Regions from separate parts of the Homo sapiens genome. Here regions 2, 3, 4, 5 and 6 are each reported to be linked to region 1. The links are microRNA targets in miRTarBase. Many come from high-throughput screens and were not tested one by one. Region 1 holds a microRNA gene; each other region holds the end of a gene's coding sequence.
The links. The annotated mature microRNA hsa-miR-663a reads AGGCGGGGCGCCGCGGGACCGC and lies in region 1 at 2,150-2,171, opposite strand. An mRNA with a match to its seed (bases 2 to 7 or 8) in the 3' UTR can be bound and repressed. Matches are read on the target gene's strand: a 7mer-m8 pairs with bases 2 to 8, a 7mer-A1 pairs with bases 2 to 7 and ends in A, and an 8mer does both.

Region 2: miRTarBase lists CALR as a target of hsa-miR-663a. Seed matches in the 3' UTR shown: 7mer-m8 at 561-567.
Region 3: miRTarBase lists VGF as a target of hsa-miR-663a. Seed matches in the 3' UTR shown: 7mer-m8 at 4,556-4,562.
Region 4: miRTarBase lists PIAS4 as a target of hsa-miR-663a. Seed matches in the 3' UTR shown: 7mer-m8 at 1,195-1,201.
Region 5: the mRNA of SRCIN1 is a reported target of hsa-miR-663a. Seed matches in the 3' UTR shown: 7mer-m8 at 979-985, 7mer-m8 at 3,204-3,210 and 7mer-m8 at 3,853-3,859.
Region 6: the mRNA of FOSB is a reported target of hsa-miR-663a. Seed matches in the 3' UTR shown: 7mer-m8 at 3,135-3,141.

What each region holds. Positions count from the first base shown.
Region 1 is chr20:26,206,094-26,211,163 of GRCh38, forward strand. MIR663A (microRNA 663a) reads right to left here and starts at 2,185; the gene lies at 2,093-2,185. MIR663AHG (MIR663A host gene) reads right to left here and starts at 3,140. Exons shown (of 5, transcript NR_040095.1): 1 at 3,030-3,140. RefSeq lists enhancers at 1,658-2,159, 3,043-3,603.
Region 2 is chr19:12,943,522-12,948,591 of GRCh38, forward strand. It overlaps CALR (calreticulin), which reads left to right. Exons shown (of 9, transcript NM_004343.4): 8 at 16-108; 9 at 192-968. The coding sequence ends at 392. RAD23A (RAD23 nucleotide excision repair protein A) reads left to right here and starts at 2,341. Exons shown (of 9, transcript NM_005053.4): 1 at 2,341-2,499; 2 at 4,327-4,488; 3 at 4,656-4,837; 4 at 4,976-5,031. The coding sequence starts at 2,428. RefSeq lists enhancers at 2,119-2,811, 2,223-2,442, 3,758-4,957 and silencers at 2,503-2,582, 2,593-2,782, 2,803-2,862, 2,834-3,128.
Region 3 is chr7:101,158,405-101,163,474 of GRCh38, forward strand. VGF (VGF nerve growth factor inducible) reads right to left here. Exons shown (of 2, transcript NM_003378.4): 2 at 4,105-5,070. The coding sequence ends at 4,592. AP1S1 (adaptor related protein complex 1 subunit sigma 1) reads left to right here. Exons shown (of 5, transcript NM_001283.5): 4 at 655-792; 5 at 2,115-2,872. The coding sequence ends at 2,162. It overlaps MIR4653 (microRNA 4653), which reads left to right and starts at 1,069; the gene lies at 1,069-1,151. RefSeq lists silencers at 4,334-4,423, 4,984-5,033.
Region 4 is chr19:4,037,035-4,042,093 of GRCh38, forward strand. It overlaps PIAS4 (protein inhibitor of activated STAT 4), which reads left to right. Exons shown (of 11, transcript NM_015897.4): 10 at 340-470; 11 at 582-2,352. The coding sequence ends at 841. Among named protein-coding and RNA genes, the nearest start is that of ZBTB7A, 27 kb to the right of the region's middle.
Region 5 is chr17:38,529,187-38,534,256 of GRCh38, reverse strand. It overlaps SRCIN1 (SRC kinase signaling inhibitor 1), which reads left to right. Exons shown (of 19, transcript NM_025248.3): 19 at 826-4,226. The coding sequence ends at 960. Among named protein-coding and RNA genes, the nearest start is that of SRCIN1, 74 kb to the left of the region's middle.
Region 6 is chr19:45,472,444-45,477,513 of GRCh38, reverse strand. FOSB (FosB proto-oncogene, AP-1 transcription factor subunit) reads right to left here. Exons shown (of 4, transcript NM_006732.3): 4 at 2,335-4,963. The coding sequence ends at 4,502. Among named protein-coding and RNA genes, the nearest start is that of TRU-TCA1-1, 3.7 kb to the left of the region's middle.

The DNA.
Region 1 (5,070 bases):
CTACTGACATCAGCTGCTCCGAAGGGCTCCAGGAGAAGCCGACTCACTAAAGGGCAAAGTTTCTACATCCTGGTGATTTAATCCCCCTTAACCAAACCAGTCAGTGACCCCAATTTTCCAGCCCCTGGTCCTCTACAATCCCTTCACCCCAGCCAAGTACTCTCTGGAAAGACAGATTCGAGGGTGCTCGCATCTCCTCACTCAGCTGCCCTGCAATCATTAAACTCTTTCTCTACTGCAAACTCTGTTTATCAATTTATCAGACTGTGACTGCACAACAGGCATACAAACATGTGAGTCCTGTATCATTTATAAATATTTAACTTTTATGTATATTTAACTGCTATACCATAATTGACTAGTTTGTATGTTAATATTAGTAGGTAATAATAATATTTATATTTCCTCCATAGGTAGCTTCTGGGGGCATTTCTGCCTGGTAAATTTTATTCTTTAATGACAAATACTAAAGTAAGTAACTTTAAAATATTATTGAGAATTTTTTTTCTATTGATGGGACACTGAATTTGTAGGTGGAAATAAAAACCTAGCTTTTTACTAAACTTAATTTTTTATTTAAACACAACTCAAAATGTAAATATAAAATTAAGAATTTCCAAAATTAAACTTAGTTTTAGGAACTCACATAAGCAAGTGTAATACTGAAGAGCAAAGAAACTGTGCTCTATAAAAAAAAATTACAAGTAATTCTTGAAATCTAAGGGCTAATTTGTGAAGTAAATTTGGAAGCTACTTTATGCTGTAGCTCCATCCTAGAGACCGAGAGAACTGCACTAGGAAAACCTGTTCAACCTTTTTTTAACCAGAAATTCTTTCTTTCTCCAGAAATCCTTTTCAGGTAATGCCTAATGATATCTCATTGAACATGTATTAGAAATTGTAGTTTAATTTTTAATTAAATAATTCAGTGAAAATATATTAATTGTAAAGATAAATTTTAACACATATGGGAATACTAGACTTACGGTGGTCATCAACCCAAAATGCTACAAAATTACATAGAATGGTTAGTTTGGCAAAAAATAAATATCACCACTAGCACCAAAAACCTAGGTTTCAAAAAGAAATAAAAGAAGCATTCCAAAATGTTAAAAATTTTTCATTTATCTACTTTCTAAATGTTCTTTGAAACACTTCTTATGTCATCATAATTTTGAAGTTTAAAAGTAAAGAAATAGTTATTCTAGTTAATATACTACCTTAAAGTTACTCTGGCTCACAAACAGAACAAAGCAAAGCATGACTTGACAGCAGTCGAATTACGGGAAATTGAAGCTAAACGAAATTGGATACCTCACCTCATCTAAACTCCTTACTTTATAAGAAGGAAAAGCATCACAAAATGTTGAGGCCATTTAACTTAAAGTCATCAGGTGAGTTAGAGATAATTTGAGACCACTGCTTTTTTTCTCTTTGTTACTATTCTCTTATGAAGTTTTGCCTGAAAACAGGTCTACTAAAAATATAAGAATTTGTAATGAAGATGAACATATATCATTGCCTTTCTGCTTAGGATTGTTCAATATTTTCCCATTGATAATATATAAAATCCTACCTACTTTGACCTCCTCTCCCACCATTTCTTTGCTCTCTATCTCCTAGAACTTCATTCTTGACTCCAAAGCTGCACCCTCCTGCATCAGTTTCTTTTGTTTGAAATCTTCAGCTCTTCATAAATTTCATCCAGCAAACTCCTATTTATCCTTTAACTCCCTATTATTTTTTCTTACAGTGCCACATTTTCCTTCATTAGCACATATCCAATTTAAAGTTACATAGTTTGAGTTTTTGCTTGACTTTCTGTTTCTGCACTAAAGCATAAGCTCCACAAAAGCAAGTATCATGTCTGATTTAACAGGGTATATTCTATTCTTTTTTTTCCACAAGGCGGTGCCCGGTTCGGTCCCAGACGCGGCCACCAACCGACGTAAAGCCGGTGAGCCGCTCGGGGAGGAGAGAGGATCGGCGGGCGGCGGGCGGGGAAGGGGGCGCAGACAGGCAAGGGCCGGGGACCGCGAGGGCAAGGGCACCTGGGAGCCCGCAGAGGGGCGGCTGAGGGAGAAACCTCAGGCATGGCCGGGCCACCAGGAAAACACGGCCGCGGGATCCCACCGCCACAGACACGAGGGCGGTCCCGCGGCGCCCCGCCTGGGACGCCGGAAGGCCCTCGGCACCCACCAAGACCTGCCTCACGAGCCCCTGGTCCCGCCACCGGGGCCCCGAAGCGACCACAGCCACAAACTCAACGCCAGGGCCACATCGCTCGTGATTCTCGTCCATCCTCCGACCCGGTCCCGCTCCGGGAGACCGGCGCGCCCCCACCGTGGGACGCTTTCCCAGGGCCAGGCGGCCCGACCACGTGCCACGCAAACGCCGTCGTCCGCACCGGTCGCGACTCGGCAAGGGAGCGGGCGGAGAGCTGACTCGCGGCGGAGGGGGGTCACTCGCCGGACGGAACGCTGCGCGCAGCCATCGCTCGCTGTCAGCCGCGTCCCAACCCGCTAGGACGCTGGGCCCTGCCGGCGGGATCCTCCCCTTACTCGGAAAGGGGAGGCGCCGGCCACAGTAGGCGACGAGCCGCGCTCGGCCACCACCGCGGTGGCCGGCGGAACCCTCGCTCTCCCCCCGTCACCCCGTCGAGGGGGAAGCTGAGGAGGGTTCCTCTGCAAGCGAGTCGCTACTGCAGCGCTACCATAACGGAGAGAGAGACAGAGGCGGCAGGCCGGGGGATCCCGTACCCCAAGGCACACCTCTTGGATCGCTAGAGAAGGCTTTCTCACCGAGGATGGGTCACACTCCCCACCCGCCAGCCGCCCCTCGTGGGGCCCGAGGGGCCCGCAGAGGCGCTCAGGGAGGCCTGGGGAAGGGAGGGGGCCTGTGGTACCAGGAAAAACCTGCGTGCGGCAACCTTGAGCGTTCGCGGTCAGGGCGGGGACCGGCAGGTGCGAGCGTGAGCGCAACTCCACAAGCCCCCGCCTCCCACCCCCCCCCCCACCCCGTCCACCCGCCTCTTTTCTTCAGAGGCAAAGCACCTCCGAGTAAACCCACACACGACCGGTCGGAGGCAGAACGGTAGCCCCTCGGCGGCCGGCCGGCGCACGCGTCACCAGCCCAAGCCCACCGCGATCGCTCACAGGGCCCGTGCGCACCCGCCAGAGGGGAGCACCGGACGTGCGCTCGCCGGACCAGGCGGGCGCCCTTCCCCGCGTGGGAGGGGCGCGTCTCGTCTCACTCAACCGCCTCGAACCCCACACCGACGAGCTCCCTCAGGACCCACGCGCGGACACCGAGGCGCCGACCGGAGGAGGGGGCGCTGGGGGTGGGAACGACACACCACCGCTCGGCCTCGGGAACCTGAGGGACAACCCGGAGCGCTCCAGGAGCACCGCAAAGGCCCAGGGGGAGCCAACGCTCGCGCAAACTCCCCGGGAGGGCAGCACGACGGGCCGGCGGGACAGCACCCCCACCGCTGCGGAGGGGGGCCGCCCGCAAGTCGACAACCACAGGAGGCGAGAGCGAGGGGTGCCTGCCGCGTCAGAGGACCCCCCGACCCACCCCGCGAGGCAGAAGGCGGGGGCGGGACAGCGAGGTCAGGCCGGGTTCCGCACCCCATGCCTTCCCAACGCACCACCCGCAGGCGAGGAAGAGGAGAGACAAGGGGCCCCCGCGGGCGGGACGAGAAGAAGGGTCCCATTCGCCACGAATGTCCGCCCCTCGCCCGTCGCGGCTCGGACACGGCCAGGGAGAGCATGACATCACCATATTCTATTCTTACAAGAGTGCTGCCACGTAAGTGTCAATGAATGTTTGTGAAATAAATGAGGGACTAAAGGAGTGATCGAACAAATAAAAATAAGTTATCTGTGTGTATTGTATGTGTGAATAAGATTTTGAGTTTGGCCAAGGCAGTTAATCACATATTAACAACTCTTTAGATACATAAGGTTTATAGCAATGAGGTACAAAATTGGTTCAACACCAAATTCTAAGATGAAACAAGGTTTATGTTCAGAAATATAGTGTTACTTTTTCTAATATCATTTGCCCTCCAACTATCAGCATGACACATGCAAACCATTGATACGTGTTTTTTTTTTTTGTATTGAAGATTCCACATGAAGAAAAATTATTATATTTCCAATAGGAAGTCCTCTTCTAAATGACAACAAATCTGAGGGTGAACACATTTGTTAAAAAGAGAGAGATTAAAAAGTTAAGATGCTGTTTGTACAGTATATAACTGAACAAAGTTGTATCTAGCAATTTGACAAGAAAGGTAAAACAGAATATTAACCTCAGCACACAAGTTTAGCTAATGATCTGGAACGGGGAGTTGTGAGTAGAGAGGAGGACAAAGATGAAAGACAACCATTTATCCCAAGTTTCTTTCCAAAGATGAAAAATAAAAAACCCTCTTAGTAATGTTTTTTAAATTCTAACTACTTTCAAGAACACATCAATAAGATATAGAGAGATAACAATCAAGTTGGACATTAACTTAAAAGTCAGATGACTTTTTAAGCATAAGTAACTTAGAACTGTAAAGTAAAAAACACTAAATGTCAATGACTTTAAAGTGGATACTGAAGTAAAAAAAAAACCTTCTATTAAAAACTAGACTATATGCAGTAACTTATGTAGAAAGCTTAGCATAAATATTTATACAAAATTGCCCTACCATATTTTATTAAAATATTACATTATAAATTAAGAGAAAATAATTTTAAAAATGAGTTATATTTTAGGCAATTTTTCTCAAAATGAGTTTCATAAATTGATATGGTTATTAGCATAGTAATTTCAATAATAGGAACAAAGAAACCAAATGAAAACCTAATGTGTGTATGTGTGTGTGTGTGTGTTTTGTGTGTGTGTGTGTGTGTGTATACAATTACCTGGAATTCCAACTTCAATATGTTTAAAAATACTTCAGTGAAAAACATTAGATTTCTTTTAAGGTAGTTTGTAAGATATTTATTAGGTTTATTTGTAGGCCTTGCACACTAAGTTAAGCAACACTATCATAAAATAAATTATTTAATAATGAAA
Region 2 (5,070 bases), not on the chromosome of region 1:
CCATTCATCCTCCAGGTCAAGTCTGGCACCATCTTTGACAACTTCCTCATCACCAACGATGAGGCATACGCTGAGGAGTTTGGCAACGAGACGTGGGGCGTAACAAAGGTGAGGCCTGGTCCTGGTCCTGATGTCGGGGGCGGGCAGGGCTGGCAGGGGGCAAGGCCCTGAGGTGTGTGCTCTGCCTGCAGGCAGCAGAGAAACAAATGAAGGACAAACAGGACGAGGAGCAGAGGCTTAAGGAGGAGGAAGAAGACAAGAAACGCAAAGAGGAGGAGGAGGCAGAGGACAAGGAGGATGATGAGGACAAAGATGAGGATGAGGAGGATGAGGAGGACAAGGAGGAAGATGAGGAGGAAGATGTCCCCGGCCAGGCCAAGGACGAGCTGTAGAGAGGCCTGCCTCCAGGGCTGGACTGAGGCCTGAGCGCTCCTGCCGCAGAGCTGGCCGCGCCAAATAATGTCTCTGTGAGACTCGAGAACTTTCATTTTTTTCCAGGCTGGTTCGGATTTGGGGTGGATTTTGGTTTTGTTCCCCTCCTCCACTCTCCCCCACCCCCTCCCCGCCCTTTTTTTTTTTTTTTTTTAAACTGGTATTTTATCTTTGATTCTCCTTCAGCCCTCACCCCTGGTTCTCATCTTTCTTGATCAACATCTTTTCTTGCCTCTGTCCCCTTCTCTCATCTCTTAGCTCCCCTCCAACCTGGGGGGCAGTGGTGTGGAGAAGCCACAGGCCTGAGATTTCATCTGCTCTCCTTCCTGGAGCCCAGAGGAGGGCAGCAGAAGGGGGTGGTGTCTCCAACCCCCCAGCACTGAGGAAGAACGGGGCTCTTCTCATTTCACCCCTCCCTTTCTCCCCTGCCCCCAGGACTGGGCCACTTCTGGGTGGGGCAGTGGGTCCCAGATTGGCTCACACTGAGAATGTAAGAACTACAAACAAAATTTCTATTAAATTAAATTTTGTGTCTCCCTCCTGTGTCTCCTTCTGGGGAAAGACAGACTTAAGGAAACCCAGCAGTGGTCTTTTTGGGGGGGGGGGGGGTTTCCAGTATATCTCCTTTTTCAGCTATTGCTAGAGAGGTTGCTGAGTGTTCCACAAGATTCCAGGGACCCTTATTTACCCCATAACCCTCAAAACCAACGGGGGAATGGCTGTTGCTGCTGTAAATACTCCACATACTAACTTACTGAATCCTTGAACCTAACTGGTAAGTTTTGGTTCTGCTTATTTATTTATTTTTAAGATAGACTCTCGCTCTGTTGTCCAGGCTGGCGTACAGTGGCTCAATCTGGTTCACCCTGCCCCTTAAACTGGCCTTTTTCATGCTTCTATTCCTTTGGGGTCCTGTGGCTCAGCCCAACCCCTCTGGGATGCCTCCAGGACTGGTAGATCCAAGGGAGAATTCTGTATTTAATGTAGTGAGGCTTTGAAAGTTAACATCTTTAAATACTTCTGGGGTCAGATTAGGTATAGTACAACAAAGTACTCCTGCCCGGAGACCCAAGAATGAAAATTGTAGGTTCATTCCAAAACTCCAGATCCCTAAAGAATGAATGAGGCTACAAAATGGCACCTTGCCCCCGCTTCCAACTTAAGGTTTTTTTTCTGTGCTTGGTGGCCTTTCAGGTATTTCTAGTTTTGAGTAACTTTCACTTTGACTGCTCTACAAGGGTTCCTGCCAGGATACCCAGACCAGAATAAAACTCATTTGGGGGCCGGGTACGGTGGTTCACGCCTGTAATCCCAGCACTTTGGGAGGCCGAGGCGGGTGGATCACCTGAGGTCAGGAGTTTTGAGACCAGCCTGGCCAACACGGTGAAACCCAATACAAAAAATTATCCGGGCGTGGTGGGGGGTGCCTGTAATCCCAGTTACTCGGGAGGCTGAGGCAGGAGAATTGCATGAACCCGGAAGGCGGAAGCTGCAGTGAGCCGAGATCGCGCCACTGCACTCCAGCCTGGGTGACAGAGACTGTTTGAAAGAAAAAATTCTCATTTGGAAGAGGCAAAATGAGGTTTTTACAGAAGAAATACAAATGTCTGTAACCAGTACAGGTACATAAAAACTTTGTTAAAAATTCATTTGAGCGTGAGAGTGGGGACACCAGAGTCACTTTGCAGCCCCGTGACGTCACCGATAACGGGCATGGCGTCACTCAGGAGACCACGTGTGCGGGCCGAGCAAGAAGCCCCGCCCACAGCGCGGAGTTTAGTCTGCGCGTGCCTCGCTCGAGAACGCGCTCGTGCGCATGCCCACAAAGGCCAAGGAGGGAGTGCGCAGGTCACGTGCGCCGGTGGTCAGCGCGCGCATTGCCTGCCCCGGAAGTGGTCGGCGCGCGGCGCGGCGCGCCTGGGCGCTAAGATGGCGGCGGCGTGAGTTGCATGTTGTGTGAGGATCCCGGGGCCGCCGCGTCGCTCGGGCCCCGCCATGGCCGTCACCATCACGCTCAAAACGCTGCAGCAGCAGACCTTCAAGATCCGCATGGAGCCTGACGAGACGGTGCGGGCCGGGCCGGAGCCCGGGGGCGGGAGCGACGGGTTTCGGGGGTGGGGTGGGGGCGGGGAGGCTAGAATCCCAACGGGAGGGGCAGGGAGGACGGCGCGGGTCGGCCCTGCCCAGACCCCCGACCTGCCCGACTTTCCTGGACCCCCCGATGGTCTTTGGCCCAGCCCCCAGCCGATCGGGCGGCGCTCCTGCGCCGGTCTCCGGGCGAGGCCCCACCCCCGGGGCGCTGGCCAGGCCCCGGCTCCAATGTCAGCGCTCTCGCGGGGCGCGGGAGTCACAAGCTCGGATTCCTGGGCAGGCCAAGCTCTCCAAGACTGGGCTCCACGTTCCCAGCTTTGCAGGCGTCTCCTTGGGACACTGGTGGTCGAATCTAGGAGTAATGACCAGGAGATACTGAGTAGTGACGACAACAACGATGTTAATGATAATAAACGGGTCTCAGTCTTTATAATTTTGGTGGTCCGTGTTTGTTGGCCGTTTACTTTTTATCAGTCACCGAGTGTTGTAGTGTTGTTTTACCGCTCTGCAAAACGGGCTTGTCATTGGGGACCTCTGATCATTTTACAGATGTGGAAACCTAGGGATTGAGGAACTTTGCCACAGTCACACACAAGTAATGGCAGAGCTGGGATTCAAATTCGGTTCTGCCTCGTGTGAGCGTCCACGATATAAATATTATGCTGCCTTTTTAGTCAAAAGTAGAATTAGGACCTAATTCAAACATACTGAATGTCTATTGGGTACTTGGCGCTTTTTGCATAGTGAGGGAGACATTGAAGTCCACTTTTTGTAGAAAAGGAAACACACATTTTTTGATCCGCTCAAGTGTTTGGCTTTGGGCAAGTTAACCTGCCTACCTGTCTGTGCCTCCGTTTTCTCAAATATCAAATGAACCGGTCGCCTGCTGGCTTCCGCCTGTAATCCCAGCACTTAGGGAGGCAGAGGGAAGAGGAGCCCTTGAGCCTAGGAATTCGAGATCATCCTGGCAACACAGTGAGACCCCGTTCTCTACAAAAAAAAGAAACAAAAATCAATAAATAAAATGAGACCAATTAAACGTATTTCATAGGAAACTTAAAAGGTATGACACATATACATTTACAGTAGCACTATTGGCCAGGCACGGTGGCTCATGCCTCTAATCCTGATGATTTGGGAGGCAGAGGCAGGAGGATTGCTTGAGGCCAGGAGTTTGAGACCAGCCAGTCTAACATAGGGAGACTCTTATCTACAAAAAAAAATTATTTTTAATTAGTCTGGAGTGGTGGTGTGTACCTTTAGTCCTAGCTACTCCCAAGGCTGGACAAGAGTACCAGTTGAGCCCAGGAGTTTGAGGCTGCAGTCAGCGATGATCGTGCCACATCAATCCAGCATGGGCGGCAGCGAGATCCTGCCTCTTAAAATTAAAAAATATCACTATTAACTATTAGTCACTTATTGTCCAAGGTAGAGTGTAGAGTGGGGGACTGTCCCCTTTATTCTGTTAATTATACTTTATACTACCCGAAATTACATTTTCTTCACATTAGTGTTCTCTCATTGAGAGCAGGGACTTACTTGTGTTGAGTTTGTTCTGTGCTGTGGCCTCTGTGTCTAAAACAGCACCTGGCACATAATGGGTGTTTAGTATAAGTAAATACTGTGTTGAATGGCATGATGATTGAATGAATTCAAATCTAGCATGCTTTAGATGCTGAGAAAGCTTAAAAAACCCAGCGTGCTTGCCTTTCTGCCATCAGGGCTGGCAGTTTCTCTGTCCTAAACTAGAAGGGAAAAGAGAATCTTGGGGTCTCCAGTGACTGTCTGTACCACTCCCTCTAGGTGAAGGTGCTAAAGGAGAAGATAGAAGCTGAGAAGGGTCGTGATGCCTTCCCCGTGGCTGGACAGAAACTCATCTATGCCGGCAAGATCTTGAGTGACGATGTCCCTATCAGGGACTATCGCATCGATGAGAAGAACTTTGTGGTCGTCATGGTGACCAAGGTGGGTGACGTGTGCTGGCTGGGAGGGTGGGTGGACGAGCTGGGGAGCTGGCAAAGAGCCTGTGTGCCCAGGAGAGATTAGCTGTGAACAGGGCGGGGCCACAGCGGAGCGGGTTGTTGGGTCTGATAGGGTTGCTGATGCCAGCTCCCTTTTTCTTGCTGTTGCAGACCAAAGCCGGCCAGGGTACCTCAGCACCCCCAGAGGCCTCACCCACAGCTGCCCCAGAGTCCTCTACATCCTTCCCGCCTGCCCCCACCTCAGGCATGTCCCATCCCCCACCTGCCGCCAGAGAGGACAAGAGCCCATCAGAGGAATCCGCCCCCACGACGTCCCCAGAGTCTGTGTCAGGGTAAGGCGGGGGCAGCAGTCCCAGCTTGGGCCCTGTCCTCCTAGCACATTCCAGCGTCCACATAAGTGGTCCCACACACCTGGAGGGAGGGCAAGCCGCCAGAAGCCAGGGTCCGATTTCTCTCTCTTGAATTTGCAGCTCTGTTCCCTCTTCAGGTAGCAGCGGGCGAGAGGAAGACGCGGCCTCCACGCTAGGTGGGTGGGTGGTCCCCAGGGCAGAGGTGACTGGGTGCC
Region 3 (5,070 bases), not on the chromosome of region 1:
CTTGGAACTCAAGTCTTCCACCCCATGGTCCAGAATTCCCTCTTTCCCTGCCCCACAGTGTCCAGGAAGCGGGGCTACCACAGCCTTTGGTGGGAAGAACGTCACAGATTTTGGGGGGAAGGCAAGGGGAACCATAGACAAAGGTAGATAAGGCAACTAATGTTTCATGATCAGGAGGAAAGATGCAAGAGGAAGAGGGAAAAAAACTGATCCAAGGCAAGGCGCGGTGGCTCACGCCTGTGATCCCAGCATTTTGGGAAGCTGAGGCAGGTGGGTCACTTGAGGCCAGAAGTTCGAGACCAGCCTGGCCAACATGGCAAGACCCTATCTCTACAAAATATTTTAAAAATGAGGTGGGCGTGATAGCATGCACCTGTAGTCCCAGCTACTCAGGAAGCTGAGGCAGGAGGATCACTTGAGCCCAGGAGTTTGAGGCTGCAGTGAGCTGTGATCATGCCACTGCACTGCAGCCTGGACGACAGAGCAAGAGACCCTGTCTCTAACAAAATAACGAAACAAAAAAACTGAAAAAGCTGACCAATGACTAAGGCTTGGAGGTTGGGGGCAGAACCCAAGGTGGGAGGCACGGTCTTGAAAAGGAAGTGGCTCCAGTTGCCCCTCCATGCTCAACTTAGCCTCTCCCCGCCCTCCCAGGTGTGCGAGCTGGACATCATCTTCAACTTTGAGAAGGCCTACTTCATCCTGGATGAGTTTTTGATGGGGGGGGATGTCCAGGACACCTCCAAGAAGAGTGTGCTGAAAGCCATCGAGCAGGCTGACCTACTGCAAGAGGTACGGGCCAGGGACAGTGAGGAGGAGGAGGAAGCGCACAGTGGCGGACAGGGTCCTCCCTCCCCTGGACACCCGGCCTGCCCTGCCCACCGTCGCCAAGGAGCCCCCCCTCCCTGTGGTATCTGACCCCCACCACGCCCAGCTCTCCAGCTTACTCTCAAGCCCTGACCCCATGGGGTGGGAGGTAGGGTGGCAGATAGCCCACCTGTGCACCCCTCATTCCAAGCTCTGTCCTTCTCCCAAGCCCCCAGATGTCTCGTGGCCACCCAGTCTCCTTTGTCCAATTCTCTGAGCAAGGCTTAACACCAAAGGGTTAAGGGTTTGCTCTGGAGTTAAGGGTTGCTTGGAGAATTGGAGAAGGGGCACCTGGTAGGTCATTCTTTTCTTCCCTGATTTCTTCCCCCACCTCTCTTTTTTTTTTCTTTTTTTTTTTTTTAACACACACATACTCCAAAGCCTCTGCGTCTCAGGAGGAAAAGGCTATGGGGATTTGGGGGCTGGCAGAGGGCACCTGGATGTTGGTTCTCCCTGCTCCCCAGCGCCCCCGCCCTCACCCCATTACTGCCTGCCCCCTCTCTGCTGTGCCATCACCGAGCCCTGGTGCAGGGAGATGAGTCACCGGAATCTGCAGTGATGAGCGAGCCCGGCCTGAGCTGGCTCTGAGGAGGGGGAGAGATGGGGGGCGAGGGAGGGCTCATCTTTGCAGTGGGAGAGAGGGCAGAACTGAACTTGCCACCTCACTGGTCGAGCTTCACCTTCCCACACACGCACACACACACACCCTGGCGCGCACACACACACACACACACACATGCCCTGGCACACACACCCATCGTGTCACCAGTGTTGCGCTCAGACCCTAATGACGCATCTCCCTGCAGCCTGGTTCACCTTCCCTCAGGGACCTGGCACTCACCTCCCTCTGCCTTTTCCCCACTCTGAAAAACAGGACCCAGTCAGCTGTACCCCCCAGGGCCCCAGAAAGATCCCCCACCTCCTTGTCCCGGCTTCACTCCCTTTACCCCCAGGTGTCAAGGCGGGGCCCCTGCTTACCAAGGTCCTGGCTTTGGGTTCTCTGGGTGGTGACGGACTCAACCTGGACCCCCCCTGCCACTGTTGGCTGGCTCTGGGGCTGGCCCTGGGAGGCTGGTGGGTGCCCCATGAAGGGCTCACTGGTCCGGCCTTGGGCTCACATTGGCTTCTCTCCCCCTCCCCCGTGTCTGTGCCTCCCCCGTCTGACTCTTCCTCGTGACTGCTGTCTTGCCCACCCTGTCGGCCTCTCCTGGTGTCTCTGCGTCACCCTCTGTCTGTCTCTGCCTTAGGAGGATGAGTCGCCACGGAGTGTGCTGGAGGAGATGGGTTTGGCATAGCCCCTGCTGGGCCGGGGTGTGGCGATGGGGTCCTGGCAGCGTGGCGGGAACGGCTGCTTCTCCTCTGCCCAGGGCCCTGTTCTTGGTGGGACTCGGCTGCCCCTCCTCTGCTGCCTCACCTTTCGGAGTGAGCTGTGGGCTCAGGCCCTTCAAACATTCCCTCCCTCCACCCCCTACCTCCACTTTCCCCTTTTCCCACTGAAGGTTTTAGAAGCTAGGAGGCAGGAAAATGTGACCCAGATGGGGGTGCTATTTGGCTTTTATTCCCTGCCTTTGCAGAACTGATGTCACCCCAGATGTCCTTCCCTCCCTAATAACTGTAAATATATAAATATGTCAGGTTAAAGGGAAAAGGTGTTCAGGGCACTTCTTGTCCTCTCTGTCCCATAACCTACCTCCACCCTCCCCCTAGCCAGCCAGGCAGCTTCTCTGCCTGGGAGGGGAGCCTGGACCCCCCTCTTTCTCCTTGGCTGCAGTGGGGCCTTTATCCAGTGCCAGGGAGGAACAACATAGTTAATTTTTTTCTAACCTTGCCACTTTGAGGGAAGGAAGGGTTGGGGGAAGGGCAAGCTTTATGGGACCCTGGTCCTGGCCCTGGCCTTTCACTCCAGTTCTGGGTGAGGCAGGAGCTGGGAGGGGTGGGGAGGGGGAGGGGGAAGTGTCTGCCTTTATGTCCTTTCTTCTGAAATAAAAGTAAAAGCATTTCTGGACTTTGCTGGCCTTGGGCTCTGTGAAGGAAGGCAGGGCTGCTGGCATCATCGGGAGGCCAAGGGGATCCTGCCAGCCTTGGGAAGAAACGGAGAGCACGCAGTTAAATGAGAATTCCAGATACACAACAAATCATTTTAGGGATAAATGTGTTGCATGCAGTGTTTGGGACACATTTAACTCTAAAACTGCATCTGTTGTGTATCTGGAATTTCAGATTTCATTTCCTGTATTTTATCTGGCCACCCTACCTTAAACGGATTTTTATGCCCAATGCGTCTCCAAACGGGCTGCCCCCAACTCCCTGAGCTGCCTTTATGGAAGGAGGAGCAACTCTTCAGGATGCGGGTCTGTTGTGGGTGATTTCGTTTGCCCAGTTTAGTTTTATTTGAATCAGTTCACAAGTACCTGCGATTAGAAAAGGCTTAAGATGGGAGGCCAAGGTGGGGAGGTCGCTTGAGCCCAGGAGTTCCAGACCAGCTGAGCAAGCTGGCAAAACCTCATCCCTACAAAAAATGCAAACATTAGCTGGGCATAATGGTGCACACTTGTAGTCCCAGCTACTCAGGAGGTTGGGGTAGGAGGATCACTTGAGCCCAGGAAGTCGAGGTTGCAGTGAGCTGTGATTGCACCACTGCACTCCAGCCTGGGCAACATAGTGAGACCCTGTCTCAAAAAAAAAAAAAAAAAAAAAGTTAAGAAGTGGCTTTAGCCAGCATGTCTCTGTGGCTGCCACTCCCTCCTCCCCGCATTTCTTGCAAAGTACCTAGGACCAGGAATGTAGGGATCAGTGGAGGGAGGTGGGTGGGTGAACACAGGAAACTCCGGCATTACCCGCGCGGCCCCAGGATCTTGGGAAAAAGGAGCCCACTGGCACCCAGAGTTGTGGCACCTTCTGCGGGTCGCCTTTTTCTTTTGAACCAGAGGTCGCTGGACTGATCGCAGACAATTGGCTCTTTTATTGCATTCCGCTGGGCCTCTCTCTGTCAAGCCCTGGGGAAAGATGACTTTACCACCAGCCCCCAAGCTGGAAGTGGAATTTCGGGTTTCTTAATGGGTGCGAGCCACATTCTTCTCCTCTAAAAACAGTTTGAGGACTTTCCCCACTTACCCCTTGCCTTAGTTTGGGGGCAGGAAGCAGGAGGAGACGGGGACTGTGGCTGGCGCTTCCCTCACCGCCCCTTGGGAAGGACCACACAGGCCCAAGGGGACGGGTGAATAACCGAGAACAAAGTCCTAATAAAATAGTCACTTTTATTTCTTAGCAAAACTATTTCCTCCGTGAGGGGTATTTACAACAGAGAAAGGAAAGAAGGGGTCAATTCACAGCGACTTGGAGAGGCTGGAGGGGCTCGTGGGAGGCCCGAAGGGCTGGAGACAGACACACTTCACACAATTAACTGGAACTGCTTTTTCCGGTTTCCGACGGGGACGTCCCCAGAGGGACTTGATGGGGCCGGGGCCCCGCGTGGCAAGGGAACTCGCACAAACCACCCGCCCTCCTGGGCTGGCCCCCGGTCACCCGCGGGTGAGCTCTGGGAGTTCGGGCTCAGGACCCGGGAGGGGGGTCTGGCAGGTCCCGACGCAGCCCGGGGACAGGGGCAGGGCCAAGGGGCAGGGCCGGGGCGCATGCAAACACCGAGGGGGAGCGGGCAACACGGAGGGGGGCGCCGGCGCGCGCGCGCGGCGGGGGCGCGCGGGGGCGGGACCGGGAAGGGCAGTCACGGGCGCCGGAGCAGCACGTGCTCGATGTAATTCTCCAGCTCCTCCTGCTCCTGCAGCCGGCGCTCCTCCGCCTCCGCCTCCTCCTGCGCGCGCCGCGCCTGGGCCTCCCGGCCGGGATAGTGGCGCGAAGGCGGCAAGGCGTGGTGGTAGTGGCGGCGGCGCAAGGCCGAGGGCGGCTGCAGTGTCCGCGGCCGGATGTAGTTGGGGAAAGGGTGGTACGGCCCTGGCGGGTACACCTCGTCCTCCTCCCGATCCCAGGGCGGGAGCACCTCGTTCCAGTCCGGCAGCTCGTCTCGTGCGGGAGCGGGGGCGGGGGGCGGGGGCTGCGGGGAGCGGACGTGGGTGGGGGCGGGGGCGGCACGGGGGGGCGGCACGGGCTCGGGAGGGGCGTTCTTCTTCCGCTTCCGCTTCTCCTCCACCTCCTCGATGATGCTGACCACGTCGTCCGCTGGCAGGTGGAGTTTGGTGGACAGCT
Region 4 (5,059 bases), not on the chromosome of region 1:
ACACCCGGAGGTGCCCAGAGGGGCAGGGTGGGGAGGACCCCTGCAGCTGCCACACTCCCTGCTCTTGTGGGTAGTTGGGGGCCACTGGGTATGTGTGTCCATGCCCCGTCCCCCCGGCAGTGCCGTGCACTGCAGACCTGCCTGGGGCTCAGCACCTGCAGGGGCCTGAGGGCGGGGGAGGGAATGCGGGGTCCCTGGACCCCTGCGGTCGGGGTGGTGAGGCTGCTCTTGCAGAGAGAAGTGGGGAGTGCCTGGCTGCATCCGGGAGGGATGGAGGGCTGGGGAGTTGGGGGGGTGGGGCACCTCCAGCCCCGGCGTCAGCTGTCCGCCTCGCCCCAGGCTCCTCTCGAAGATCCTGAGCGAGTGTGAGGACGCCGACGAGATCGAGTACCTGGTGGACGGCTCGTGGTGCCCGATCCGCGCCGAAAAGGAGCGCAGCTGCAGCCCGCAGGGCGCCATCCTCGTGCTGGGTGAGTGCCTCACCCCACCAGCCGCGCAGTCCGCAGCCAGGGCCGCCTCAGTTTCCCCATTTATCAGTGGTTGCATCCTAAGTACCTGCACCCTGTCCCTGTTGCCCGTAGGCCCCTCGGACGCCAATGGGCTCCTGCCCGCCCCCAGCGTCAACGGGAGCGGTGCCCTGGGCAGCACGGGTGGCGGCGGCCCGGTGGGCAGCATGGAGAATGGGAAGCCGGGCGCCGATGTGGTGGACCTCACGCTGGACAGCTCATCGTCCTCGGAGGATGAGGAGGAGGAGGAAGAGGAGGAGGAAGACGAGGACGAAGAGGGGCCCCGGCCCAAGCGCCGCTGCCCCTTCCAGAAGGGCCTGGTGCCGGCCTGCTGACCCCGGCCGCACACTCGACTTTCCTGGTGCTCACCACGCAGAGGGGCACGGGCCAGCCTCGGGCGCAGAGGGAGGAGTGACCTTTCTTTTTCTTTTTATTGTCGTTCGTTTTGTTTTTCCACCCTTTTGCCTGGCTCCTGGCACCTGTACCTCTGGACTCTCCTATCGGGGGATTAAAAAAAAAAGTAAAATGACAAAAAAAGATACAAAAAAGAAAAATGAAACAAAAAAGTCAAACTCTTAAAAACAAGGCCGGCCACCCACACAGCCGCCTCCCCGGCTGGAGTCCGAGCCGGGAAGGGGTAGTGGGCGGGAGGGACCAGGACGCCGCCCCGCGCCCTCCCCTCCGGATGCCCCGCCGCCCGCCGCCCTCTGCCCACGACCATTCCAGCCAGTGCGCGGGGACCCGGGCGGCGGGCGGTGGGGCGCAGCCCCTCTCTGGCGACCACTTTGACGTTTGTCTCTTCCTTTGCTTTTTCTCTGCAAATGCATCCTCGCCCAGAGACCCTCACGCGCCGAGCAGCGAGCGTTTTAGCCGAGAAGCCATGGAGTGGGTTGGGGCGGGGAGGGGCAGTAGGGTGGGGGGATGGGTGGGCAGGATGGGGGTACAGTGGGCGGCTGGGGAGGGTTTAGCCACAGATGTGTTGTATTTTTTGAAAGTGCAATAATTTGGTATTTTGAAGACCCGGCGTGTGGTCAGGAACCCCCGGGGAAGGCGGGGGCCCAGGGTGCGGCACCGTGTGGCGTGGGGGGGTCTCAGTTTTCTAGCCAGCTACCTCGGTAATTCCAATTCAGGTTAACTTCCCTACGGAACAGCACAGATGTCCACAGATGTCCACAGCTGCCGCCGCCGCCGCCGCCACCATACCCCGGTCCTTGGGGCATGGGTTGCGGTCGCTTCCCAAGGGGCAGCAGGGACCCCGGCCACCCCGGCTCTCGGTTTGGGTTGATTCCTCTCCTTTTTGCTCTTGGTTTTCCGACGGGTACGAGGCTGGCCCGGCACCCTGTCCCCCGGGAGCCTCACTCTTCCAGCAGGACCAGACCAGGGGCCTCCTTCCTGTCCCCAGGCGTTCCCGGCCCCTCGCAGGCCCCACCCATGCCCTTGGCCTCAGGGTCCAACAACTGGGGGAGCTACCAGGGCTCTGCCTTCAGGAGCCCACAGCTGGGCACCCCCCTTGCCCCGCAGGAGACCGGGGCGCAGGCGGGGCACCGGCCTCACCTGGTTCTCCAACACCGCTGCCTGCGGTCTGTTTTGCTTTTGTCCTCCCCAGCCCAGAATTTTCCTTTGTATAAACAGAACTCCTAGTCAGGAAGCAATATCATTTCAGGTCTAAAGAAAGGGACGTGCATCTGGCCGAGGGCAGTTCAGTCTCACTGCAGAGCCCGCAGCCCGCTGCGCAGCTCGGCCCCTCCCGCCCGCACGGGCAGCTGAAGGCCGCTGTTTTCTAATATTTGTATTCTAATTTAATTGTTTTTAAAAAATGCAAATAAAAAAGGTCGAGGTGAAGCCATCCAGGCGTCCGCTTTTCTGTGCCCTGTGTCTCTTAAGTGTGTACCCTGTAGTCGGGGGGCGGAGTTGGGGGAAGGACAGAAACTCAGCCTCACCCACATCTCTCTTTCTTGGTTATTGCCTCAGCTTCAGAATTCAAAAGGTGCTGCTCGTGGTCAAATGAGGCAGATTTTTATTTATTTACTTATTTTTAATAGAGACAGGGAGTCTTGCTGTGTTGCCCAAGCTGGTCTTGAACTCTGGGCCTCAAGTGATCCTCCTGCCTCAGCCTCCCAAAGTGCTAGGATTACAGGCATGAGCCACCATGCCCGACCTGAATGAGGCCAGTTTTACTGTGTACTGTACTGCCTGGGCCTGGTGTCCACCACGCTGGGAGAATGGGAGAAGGGACTTGGGCTGTACATGGAATTCAGGTCCCAGGATCGTCCATGTCTCTGGGTGGCCAAGACGATACACAAATGTTTTGCTTTTGTAAGGTGAAAAAAAAGGGCCGGGTGCAGTGGCTCACGCTTGTAATCCCAGCACTTTGGGAGGCCGAGGCGGGTGGATCACCTGAGGTCAGGAGATCGAGACCATCCTGGCTAACACAGTGAAACCCCATCTCTACTAAAAATACAAAAAGCTGGGCGTGGTGGCGGGCGCCTGTAGTCCCAGCTACTCGGGAGGCTGAGGCAGGAGAATTGCTTGAACCCAGGAGGCGGAGGTTGCAGTGAGCTGAGATCACGCCACTGCACTCCAGCCTGGGCGACAGAGCGAGACTCCGTCTCAAAAAAATATATATACAGACAACCAATGAGCACATGAAGAGATGTTAGGGATGTGAGTCAAATGCACGGTGAGATACCTGTCACCCCCACCAGGACAGCTAGCATCAAAAACAGCAGCGAGGGTCAGGGAAGCTGCAGTCCACATGGCTGGGGAAGATAACGTGGTGCAGCCCCTTGGAAACAGTTGAGGCTAAATGTGGAGTTAGCGTGGGACCTGCAATGCCAGCCCTAGACGTGTCCCCAAGGTAAGTGAACACGTCCGTCCACACAAATGTGCTCACGGACGTGCACAGCAGCCAAATGTGGCAATGACCCATGTCCAGCCGGGGAGTGAATCAGTGCAGTGTGGCCATCCACACTGCAGAATGACAGCCATGGAAAGGAGCGAGGCTCTAACACAGGCCCCCAGCCCAGACGAACTCTGAGGATGCCATGCTTAGTGAGAGACATCAGACACCAAAGGCCACGAGGCGTGTGATCCCATTTCTGTGAAATGTCCAGAACAGGCCAATCCACAGAGACAGGAAGGGGATTCACGGGTGCTGGAGAGTGGAGAAGGGGATTGAGAGTGATCACAAATGGATATGGGGCATCCTTTGGGCTGGATAGAATGTTCTGGAATTAGTGGTGACAGGTGCATAATTTTTTTAAGGGAATTTTTTGTTTGTTTGTTTGAGACAGTCTCGCTCTGTCGCCCAGGCTGGAGTGCAGTGGCGTGATCTCAGCTCACTGCAAGCTCTGCCTCCCGGGTTCACGCCATTCTCCTGCCTCAGCCTCCCAAGTAGCTGGGACTACAGGCGCCCGCCACCACGCCCGGCTAATTTTTTGTGTTTTTAGGAGAGACGGGGGTTTCACCGTGTTAGCCAGGATGGTCTCAATCTCCTGACCTCCTGATCTGCCCACCTCGGCCTCCCAAAGTGTTGGGATTACAGGCATGAGCCACCGTGCCCAGCCTTTTTTTTTTTTTTTTTCTTTTGACATGGAGTCTTGCCCTGTTGCCCAGGCTGGAGTGCAGTGGCACCATCTCGGCTTACTGCAACCTTCACCTCCCCCCAGGTTTAAGTGATTCTCCTGCTACAGCTTCCTGAGTAGCTGGGACTATAGGCGTGCACCACCACGCCCAGCTAATTTTTGTATTTTTACTAGTCACCATGTTGGCCAGGATGGTCTCAATCTCTTGACCTCGTGATCCACCTGCCTTGGCCTCCCAAAATGCTGGGAGCATTACAGGCATGAGCTGCCGCACCTGGCTTTGAAGAGCAATTATATGGTGTGTGAATTACATTTATTTTCATTTCTGAGAAAGGGTCTCACTCTGTCACCCAGGCTGGAGTGCAGTGGTGCAATCATAGCTCACGGCAGCCTCGACCTCCTGGGCTCAAGCAATACTTCCACCTCAGCCTCCAGAGTAGCTGGGACCACAGGTGTGCACCATCACACTCGGCTAATTTTTGTATTTCTTGCATAGACGTGGCTTCACCTTGTTTTTCTGGCTGGTCTTGAACTCCTGGGCTTAAGTGATCCTCCCTTCTTGGCCTCCCAAAGTGCTGGGATTTCAGGCATGAGCCACCGCGCCTGGCCTTGAAGGGAAATTGTATGGTATGTGAATTATATTTTTGTATTTTTATTTTTGAGACAGGGTCTCACTCTATCGCCCAGGCTGGAGTGCAGTGGTGTAATCATAGCTCACTGCAGCCTCGACCTCCTGGGCTCAAGCAATCCTTCTGCCTCAGCCTCCAGAGTAGCTGAGACCACAGGCGTGCACCACCACACCTGGCTAATTTTTGTATTTTTTGCAGAGACGTGGTTTCACCTTGTTTTTCTGGCTGGTCTCGAACTCCTGGGCTCAAGCAATCCTCCCTCCTCAGCCTCCCAATGTGCTGGGATTACAGGCATGAGCCACCACTCCCGGCCCTCTCTGAAGCACAGAGGTTAGGAAGC
Region 5 (5,070 bases), not on the chromosome of region 1:
CACGTAGCTCTCAAACCGCACTTTGGAGACCGCAGCTGCAGAGGAAAAGCCTCCAGGACCGGTGGAGTTGCGGGAGTCCACCGAAGGTGGGAGGAGGATGAGGGGTCAGTTCTGACCACTAGAACTGACCAGTGAGGGCAGGACAAGTCATGAGGGAGTAGCCTCCTGTTACCAACTGGGGCGACAAGTGCTTGCAGGGCATGCAGTGGGGCCTCCTGCACTGGGCGGGAGGCTGGTGCGGCAGCGCCTTCTTCTCAGATTTCCAGGTGGTGGTGGTGGTGGTGGTGGACGGGGTCTTTGAAGTGTTTATTCCCCCCTGGGAGGATAAGCCCCCTCCTCTGTTGCCACCAGGATGAAGCTGGAAGGGGCTCTGGCTGTACAGCGGGCCATTTGGGACTAGGAGCCTTTCCCCACCCTGACCCCCGTCCCCCGCAGGGCTTGTGCCCCTGTCCCAGCTAATGTTTCACTTCTTCCTCCCCTCCCCTGCCCTCCCCCACCCCCACCTCCCCATCTGCCCATCCTGGGCGCGGCCTCTTCTGTGCTTCTCTGGTCGCTCTGCTTCTCTCTCTGCTCTCAGTAACTATGGGCCTGCCCTCTGACCACCCAGGCCCTTTGTCCAACCTCGTGCCCCCTCCCCCCCCTTTTCTGCCCCCACCCCTCCACCATTCAAGGGACCCCTCTCTCCAGATGCCCCTCTGGCTTCTTCCTTTTGCAGTTAATTTCCTTGGATTTGTGGAGGTTTTCCACTTTTAAAACTTCAGCTGGGGGCCAGCATGGAGGCGCTCCCTTCCGCTCTCTGACCCCTGACCCCTGTTTTTGTTCCAGGCCACTAAACCATCTAAAGAGATGAGCGGGTCGAATGAGACCTCGAGCCCAGTCTCAGAAAAGCCCTCGGCTTCCAGAACCTCTATCCCTGTATTGACTTCCTTTGGGGCAAGGAATTCTTCCATCTCCTTCTAGAAGCCCCTCACCCCGCTGCCCCGCCTGTCCCCCTCCCTCACTCCTGCCATTTCTCCCCTCTCTTCCTTCATCTCCACCCCACCCCACCCTACTCTCCAGACGCCCTGAGGGGTGTGCCCTGAAGAGGAGGGTGCGGCCCTCCTCAGCGACCCCTACCCATCATCTGTTGGTGTTTTTGGTTTTGTTTTTTTTTTTTTTTTTAACAATTAACTTTTAATTATCTTTTTTTAAACAGTAAAACTAAAAACCAAACACACCACCTTCCTTGATCCCAGCTGGCCTCTCGCTGGCCGCACCTGTCACATCTCTCCTTCTTCTCTTTCACCACTCTTTCCCCCAGTCCATCCTGAAGCTCCTGCACCCCCTTCCCGCCTTCCCCTCACTTCCCAAGAATACTCCAAACAAACTCTGAACCACGGAGACTTGGAGCAGTGGGAGACCCCTCTCCCGTTTCTCGATACCTTCCTGGAGGAACGCGGGGACATCGGACCAACCCATACATCAAGCCAGAGAGCGGGGCTTAGGGAGACTGGCCTTGGAGATGCCCCACTCCCTGTCTAAGCTCCGACAAGACTGTGACTTCCTCTGTGGCTGCTCTGCCTCCTCCCACTCACACCCAAGTGGGCCTGGAGTAGAGACGGACAGGCTGGAGACGAGGCCGGAGTTTGAGAGGCCTCAGGGTGGGTGTGAGGCCATGGAGTCTGTATCCCTGGGGAGGCGCTGGCCTCCTGGGCCTTGCCGTCCAGTGGGGAGTGGAGGGCAGAGGCCCTTTGGTCTGCTGGCTGTGGAGGGTGGGTTGCACGGACAGCCGGATATCGGGGACACTGCCTTGGGAGAGGGCGGCCCGGACGGGTATTTGGTACTTTTAGTTTCCTGATTTAGCACTTTAAATGGCATTAACTTATTGAATGGGGATGGGGTGGGCAAGAGTGAGGGGCCTAGAAAACCAGGTTTTGTGGCTTGCAGTTGGGGGAAGGGTCTGGTTTGAGGGAAATGGGAGGGTCGAGAGGGGCTTGACGGGGAGCACTGAAGACACCTGGGACCCGCAGGTGGGGTGACTTGAACTTCAGTCATCCTCTTGGCAATTTGAGGGTTTTCCCAGGAAAGGATGAGACGTAGTTTTTCAATGGGGCTCTGGTGACCCTGGTGAGATGTCTGAAGGTCCCTGAGGCCTGACCATCCAGCCAGCGCCCCTGGCCTGTGGACGCCCTGCCTGCCCTGCAGAGGCGGTTGGCAGTGCCGCCTGGCTTTTGGCCGGGTCCTGGGGAGGCAGAGAGAGGCCAATTTTGGTTCTCACTCCTGGCCCCCCAGAGGGCACAGTGAGGAGCCGGTAGGGAGAGGATAGGAGAAGAGGAGGAGGAGGAGCGGGGTCCCCGGCCGCAGGATTCCCACTTGGAGCACAAAGTGAAGTAAGCACAGGGGAGGGGGACTAGAATCAGTCCCCCATAGCAAGCACAGAAAGGAGGAGCTGCGCAGAAGGCAGAGCCCCCCAGACCCTGGGGCCTGGCTGGGGAAGGTCCGCACCTGGGGAGAGCTGGGAGCTGTTGAAGGTTTGGGGGGAGGGGAAACGGGTTGTGTTTCTTCATTTCTTTTTTTGTTTTTGCCTTTGTTGGTTCATCCTTGTTTTCTAGCTTTGGATCATTTTTGTACCAAGGCGAGCAAGCCTTTTTGAAAAATAACAAAAGAGGAAAAAAAAAATCCCTCCTGGAAAAAAAAAAAAACCCTGGAAAATAGAAAAAAAAAAAAGGACCTCATAAATGATGCAATTACTTTTAATTGCAGGCAACTCTTTACATTTAAGTGAAGTGTCTTAACATTTTATATTGTTTTAAAAATATATTTACATATTATATATATAATATACGTAATATAAATATATATAAATATTTAAAAAAGAAAAAAAAAAGAAAACCACGGCACTCTCCCTGGCCACTGTTTTGGCGGGGGAGGGGGGCTGGGGGGCGGGCACGTCGGCCTGGCTTCTGTGGTCCCAGTGAAATGGTCTGGTTTGATTTGGCTGTACAGAGACCCCCTGACTTGGGAGGGGAGGGGGGAGTGGTGCCCCCTCCTCCCTCCACTCCATTACTCTCTGCTTGCTACTTCGCTTGCCCCCAGCTCCCACCCTCAGCCCTGTGACTGGAATGTGTGCCCCACCGTCATTGTCCTGAGTTGAATGTCCCTTTGTGGGGGAGGTGGGGGGGGCAGTGTCCATCCACGAAGGGGCAGAAGGAGGGAGCCACGTGCCCCGCCCCACCCGCTCGGGTGAAGCCCAGTGGGATTTGCATCTTTCTTTCTCTTTGGTTCCTGCACATTTATGGGCTGGGAGGCATCCGTGTGGAATTGCGTGCAGCCTGTGTGTGTGCTGGCACAAGCCCATGCACTGTGTGTGCAGACGCATGGGGCCTGCACCCACAGGCATGGCCGAGCACATGTGTGGGGGAAGGCGTGGGCACATAGGTGCATGTAACCTGTTTGGGCATTGGCACGTGCCTACCTGCATGTTAGCGTGAGAGGAGCTTTGTGTGTGAGAACATGTGTAATGTGTGTGCAGACATGCCGAGAGCCAGAGACTTGTGTGTGGGCCACGTACATGTGGATAGAGACGCATACATGGAGGTGCATGTAATCTGTGTCTCCGAGTGTGTGTGTGCAGGTATGTGTGCTGGTGCAGACCCAAGTGTGTGGGTGTGCCTCTGTGTGCGTGTGTTCCATCATCCCTGCACCACTGGCTCCAGATCCCTTCCTGAGCCCCCGTCCCCGCTGGCCCTCTCACAGCCTGCAGCACATCAGTGCCCCCAGCTGCATGCGCCTCGCTGCTCTGTCCATCAGTGTGTGCTTGACCAAGAGAAAACTAAGACGTCTCGGGGGACCCCTGTACCTGGTCCTCTCAGCCCCCGCCCACTGTGCTGTGTTACTCGCATGGGGGATTTCCTGCCCCTTCCACAATATGCTGTTTCCCCAGGAGCCTCAGGCCTGAGGCTCTGAGTGGGGTCCCCAGGGGGCCCCCCGGGGTGAGCCCCGGCTCCACACCCTGCCCCATCCACCCTGTAGGGCCCATGTTGGTGTAGCAGTGATGGCTTCTGTGGATATTCTGTGACCTCTGTCGGTGTAACTTGACAATTTCTAAATGGAAAAGGGTTGCTGTGTTTTCTCTGTCTCTCTTTTTTAATGTCCTTTTTTCTTCTCCCCCGCTCCCTGCTCTCTTTCCTTTTCAGTTTTTCTAGCCAAGTGTTTGGGGCTTTAATAAAACTTGTTTCTTTTTCCTCTCCTGGATCTCCTTCCTATAGGCTGATGTCTCATTATTTCTCTGCTTCACCCTGGAGGATCTGGAAGGTGCTGGGATGGGTGGGGTGGCAGGTGGGGAATCCCTGGCAGCCACTGGCCTTCAGCTGGCAGAGCATGAGGGGGAGGACAGAACAGGGCCCCTGGGATTAGCCAGGTGGGGTGGTGTACACCAGTAATCCCAGCTACTCGGGTGGCTGAGGCATGAGAATCGCTTGAACCCAGGAGGTGGAGGTTGCAGTGAGCCAAGATCGCACCACTGCGCTCCAGCCTGGATGACAGAGCGAGAACCTGTCTCAAAAAACAAAAACAAAACAAAAAAAACCAGTTCTCAGCTTGGCATTCCAGGAGGTGTCCTGCCTAACCCTCACAACCATCGGTGAGGTAGCTACCGGCACTACCTACTCAGGCAAGTGACAAAACTCAGAGATGTTGGGCATCTTACCCAGAGTCATACAACTGGTAGGTTGTAGACAAACCAGTAAGTTTGAATCCAGCTCTGCCTGACACCAAAGCCCACGGTTACCCTGAAACCAAGCAGGGCTGATGACCTCCAGTAGTCCCCTGAATTGGGTCTCAGCCTCCTGCCCTTTGAGTGAGATGACCCTTGGTGGGGGTCCACCCATCTTTTCTTTCTTTTCTTTTTTTTAGACGGGGTCTCCCTCTGTCACCCAGGCTGGAGTGCATGATTACAGCTCACTATAGCCTCAACTTCCCTGGGCTCAGGTAATTGTCCCATCTCAGCCTCCCAAGTAGCTGGGACTACAGGTGCCTGCCACCACACCTGGCTACATTTTTTTGTATTTTTTGTAGAGATGAGGTTTCGCC
Region 6 (5,070 bases), not on the chromosome of region 1:
CAGCCTCACTCAGACCACTTGACCCATGCTATTTATTACTGCCCTGTATTTTCCTTCCCAAGCCGGCTGCTCACCAAGCCCAACTGTCCTGCCTCCCGAGTGTCTCCTGAATCCTTCCCCTCCTCTCTGTCCCATGTCCCTGGCCCTGTTCTGGACTCCTCCTCACCCCACCCTGCAGGGTCCCCACCCCACTTCCTCCCTGGTCTCCTGCTCAGTCTCACTCCTCTCCCTTCCAGTCACGCTCAGTCTGGGGCCAGAGGGGTCTTTCCTAAATCACAAACCTGCCCCTGCCCCTCTCGTGTTCAAAACCTGCAATAGCTCCCCAGTGCCCTGAAGAAAAGATCTAAACTCCTTAGCCTGGGAATGTCATTATAGTACCTGCAGAATCTGGTCTCTACTAACCCCTCTCTCCACACCCGTGGTTCCAGTCTCCACGAATCTCTGAGTTTTCTCTTTTTTTTCTTTCTTTTTTTTTTTTTTTTGAGACAGAGTCTCGCTGTGTTGCCCAGGCTGGAGTGCAGTGGCACAATCTCAGCTCACTGCAATGTCCACTTTCCAGGTTCAAGCGATTCTCCTGCCTCAGCCTCCCGAGTAGCTGGGATCACAGGTGCCCACCACCATGCCTAGCTAATTTTTTGTATATATATATATATATTTTTTAGTAGAGACGGGGTTTCGCCACGTTGGCCAGACTGGTCTTGAATGCCTGACCTCAGGTGATCCACCCACCTCGGCCTCCCAAAGTGCTGGGATTACAGGCATGAGCCATCGCACCCGACCCTCTAAGCGTTCTCAATGTATCAAGCCTTCTCCCCACCAACAGATCTATGGCTGTGCTATTTTCTTGGCCTTGGCCTTTTTCTATTTCTTTCTATACTCTCTATCCTCCTCTAGGACTCAGCTCAGCTGTCCCCTCCGCCAGGAAGTTTTTCCCGACTCCCAGTCCAAGCTAGGTGTCCCTGCTGTGCTTCCCTAGCCCCATGGGCTTCCCAAACCCAATCCACTTTAGGTTGTCCCTGACTGGCAACGGTGTGTGTCCCCCAATGGACTGTGAGCCCCAGGAGGGCAAGACCTGAGGCTCAGTCCCTATAGTGTCCCCAACTCCCAGCACAGTTGGGTAGGTGCTTAGCACATTTTTTTGAGTGAATTAATAAATGGATTCCACCATGACAAATTCCCTTGCTTATTGATTTACCAAAGCGTCTGAGCGACCCCTGGACCCTCACCTCAATTCCCAGAGGACTTGCTGTTATGCAAATAAGAGACGGCTAGGATTTTGCAATGGGGATGGCTCCACTCTATGTGTAAAAAAAAAAAATGGTCATATATTTGCTTCAGTCAGTCTTGGGTTGGCCCCAATAGTGGTCATATGGAAAACAAAAGGAAACACATCTTCAGTGTAAAATAATTGTTTTTTGTAGTTGTAGTTTGTAAAAAATCCAAGATGACGCCTCATTCCTAGCCTGAGTGGTCTTTAGTAGTTTGCTGTGCAAGTTTCTCAAGATCCTCTTTTTTTTTTTTTTCTCAACATAATGAGATGGGTTGGGGTGGGGGGTGTCTCACTATGTTGCCCCAGGCTGTTCTCGAACTCCTAGCCTCCTACCTCGGCCTCCGAAAGAGCTGGGATTGCAAGTGCAAGCCACTGTGCACAGCCCATTAAGCTTCTTCTGTGTATAGTTTATCTCCTTAGCGTCTGTTTTTAACCCATAGAGCATACAAGCTCCATCACTAGGACACCTCTGTGATCCCACACCTGCAGGCTAACCTTCTGACCCCTTACTTTTTTTTTTTTTTTTGACAGTTTCACTTTGTCACCCAGGCTGGAGTGCAGTGGTGCAATCTTGTGTCACTGCAACCTCTGCCTCCTAAGTTAAAGTGATTCTCCTGCCTCAACCTCTCAAGTAGCCTGGGATTACAGGTGTGCACCACCACACCAGGCTAATTTTTGTATTTTTTGTAGAGACAGGGTTTCACCATCTTGGCAAGGCTGGTCTCAAACTCCTGACCTCAAGTGATCCGCCCATCTTGGCCTCCCAAAATGCTGGGATTACAGGCGCAAGCCACTGCGCCCAGCTGTAGCCACTTACTTTTTCTAGTAGGAGGCACTGCCTGCGAGTACAGGAAGTCCTCCTGACTGTCTGCCTTCCTTTTATCCTGCTGTAGACCCATTGACTAGAAGGAGTTCCTGCATAGGTGTGTGTCTGTGTGTGTGTGTGCATGGGTGTATGATCTCTGTGTGTGTGTAGTCCTTCGACAATCTAACCTCATCCTCTCTTACTAAAAGGAAGCCAGGCAATGGGTGTTAGGAGGAAATAAACACTGTAGCCTGGCGAATGCGTTTTTAAGAGCTTTTTATTGGCAACAGTGCAGAACCAAGGGGAGAGGGGACGGCCCATTGCCAATCTGTCCCAGCCCCCCGGGGTCAGATGCAAAATACAAAAAGAGAACCACAAGTACAGCATGGGGTAGGGGGGTCGGGGATTCATTGAATTGTGGTTGGCAGGAGCAAGCCCTGCTCACACTCTCACACTCGCACCCAGAATTGTCAAAGATACAGATTGTAAAAATCTACGATCCCTCAGTCTCACTCACAAAAAATAAAATCTCATGTCCCCAACGAACCCAGAGTCAGACGACAGCTGGAGCATTGGCAGGGACAGTCAGAAAGGAGACAAGTGAAAACGGTCAGATGGACACAGGCGGAGGAGAAAAGACAGAGGGAGAGAGACCATCGGGAACAATCAGAGGGGCCGAGACGATCAGAAAAGGGTCAGCCCGAGACAGGCTGAGCCAGAGTTTCTAGAAGCAGTTTCCAATTCAACGGCTCGCTTTGAGGGCCAACGTGACCTAGGCCGAGGCTGCAGAAGCGCTCACACACTCACGCGCACGCACACACACACATCCATATATAATATATTTACTTATACATAATAGATATAATTGCCTTTCGGAAACCAGGAAAGGGATAAATAGCTAAGGAATGGGTCTGGGATCAGGATGGGAGACGCGCGACAAGGGGCACGTGGAATGTTTTTCATGCAGCACGGATGGAGGGCGGCGTGGTCCACCCCCCGATATTAAAAAATATAAATTTGCCTCATAAAGAAATCCTCATGAGATGAAGCGCAGGGAACGGCGGGGTGGGAGAGCCAAAACCATGGTCAGGGATGGGCGGACTCGGGCATGGAATCATGAGATTCCAGCCCCTTGAGTCTGCCAGTCCAAAAATATTGGGGGTTTGGGGGTACCAAAGCCTCAGCTCTGAAATCTTCTCCGGAAAAATGTCACAGCCCCTCACTCCCTTCCTGGAGAGGATGTGAGGGGCCAAGGGGTGGGAGAAGTTGGCGTCCTAGGCTGGGGATTGGTCGGGGGACCTTAAAGAAAAAGGCCAGGGCTGAGGGTCCTGAGGAGAGAGAGAGAGGCCACGTGGATGGAGGACTGTCACCCCCTTCTCGGTTCTGTCACCCCCTTGAGTCTAACTCACTGTTGAGGGGAGGAAGAAGGGGGATGGACGGAAGGGAGACCGAGGAAAGGCTTTCGGGAGTGGGGACATTATCCCCCCAGAGGTGTGCTGCCCCACCCAGCTGCACCCCACAATCTGGCCAACTCATTTCACAGTATAAATCACTCCAGCAGGACGGCATCACAGCAGCCCCTGCTGCCTGAAATCAGAGCGGCCCAACGAGGAAGGCCAGGAGGGTCGGCTGGCAGGGGGCAGGGTCTTGGGATAACACTGTCATCAGAAACAAGGCTGGGGGCTGATTTCGGGGTGGGGAGCCTTAGGAGGCCAGAAATTCCAATCAGAGCCAGTTTTTCTGGGAGGGAGTGGCTAGACAGTCAAGGAAGGACGTTCACATTTCAAAAGAAGTCGGGTGGGGGGATGAGATTATTCTAGGGGGGCATCGAATTCCCTTTAAGGGGGGGGCTCACTTCTGCCCAGAGTAAAGAGGATCTCACACCATGGAAATGTGGGATCAATAAGCTAAGGTCGGGAGTGCAGGGGAAACCAACCTAGGCACCCCAAAAAAAGGGTGGGTGTGGGAGACATTGGGTAGGGAGTGGCATTTTTCCTTGTTGAGCCTCTCTGGAGAGGACTCCAGCCCACCCCACAGCCTACCTCCCACCCCCGTCCCTTAATCCTCACACAGGACTGCCCGAAGGTGGGCGTCACCCGCCCCCCTCCCCACCCATCCCCAGAGCTTGGGTTGACGTCAGAGAGCCAACAGTCAGCTGGGGGTGTCCATCCCCTTCCCACCCCCTGTCCCCAAAGTCACCAGCTCTCCGGCCTCGCCGGGGCACAGAAACAAGAGGCAGGACAAAACACAAGGAATCCTCCTGTCCGATGGCAGTGGCGCAGTGGCCGCAGAGGGTCAGACGGAGGAGCCAGGGAGGCCACACACCCACTTTGTCTCTTCCCCTCTCTCTCCTCCTTCTCCTCCTCCTCCTCCTCTTCCAAGTCTCTCTCCCCCATGTGTTTGTTTGTTTTGTGTGTCTAAAGAGTTCACAGAGCGAGGAGGGAGGGCGAGTTCAGGGGATCGGAAGGCTGGTCACTGCCGCTGGTGCGTTGGGCGCCGGCGAACGCGGAGACCTCCGGGCAGGTGAGGACAAACGAAGAAGTGTACGAAGGGTTAACAACGGGGAAGGGGTCGCCGAGGACTTGAACTTCACTGTGTGTAAAGAGAGAAGCCGTCAGGTTGGGGGGTGCGTCTTGGCTGGTCTGGAAGGGCAGGGGCGGTGGTGGCGGGGGCGGCAGCAGCCAGCTGAAGCCATCTTCCTTAGCCGGTGCTGAGCCCGGCAAATCTCTCACCTCCGCCAGCGGGCCCGGCCCGGGCCCCTCTTCGTAGGGGATCTTGCAGCCCGGTTTGTGGGCCACCAGCACAAACTCCAGACGTTCCTTCTCCTTTTGGAGCTCGGCGATCTCCGACTCCAGCTCTGCTTTTTCTTCCTCCAACTGATCTGTCTCCTGAGGCCAGGGAGGCCAGGTCACAGAAGAGAGAGAGGAAGGAGAAAAAAGCATGTCAGTGACCGGGAAACTCGGGTCATGGCTCCCTTGGACTTGCTGCTGGAAGG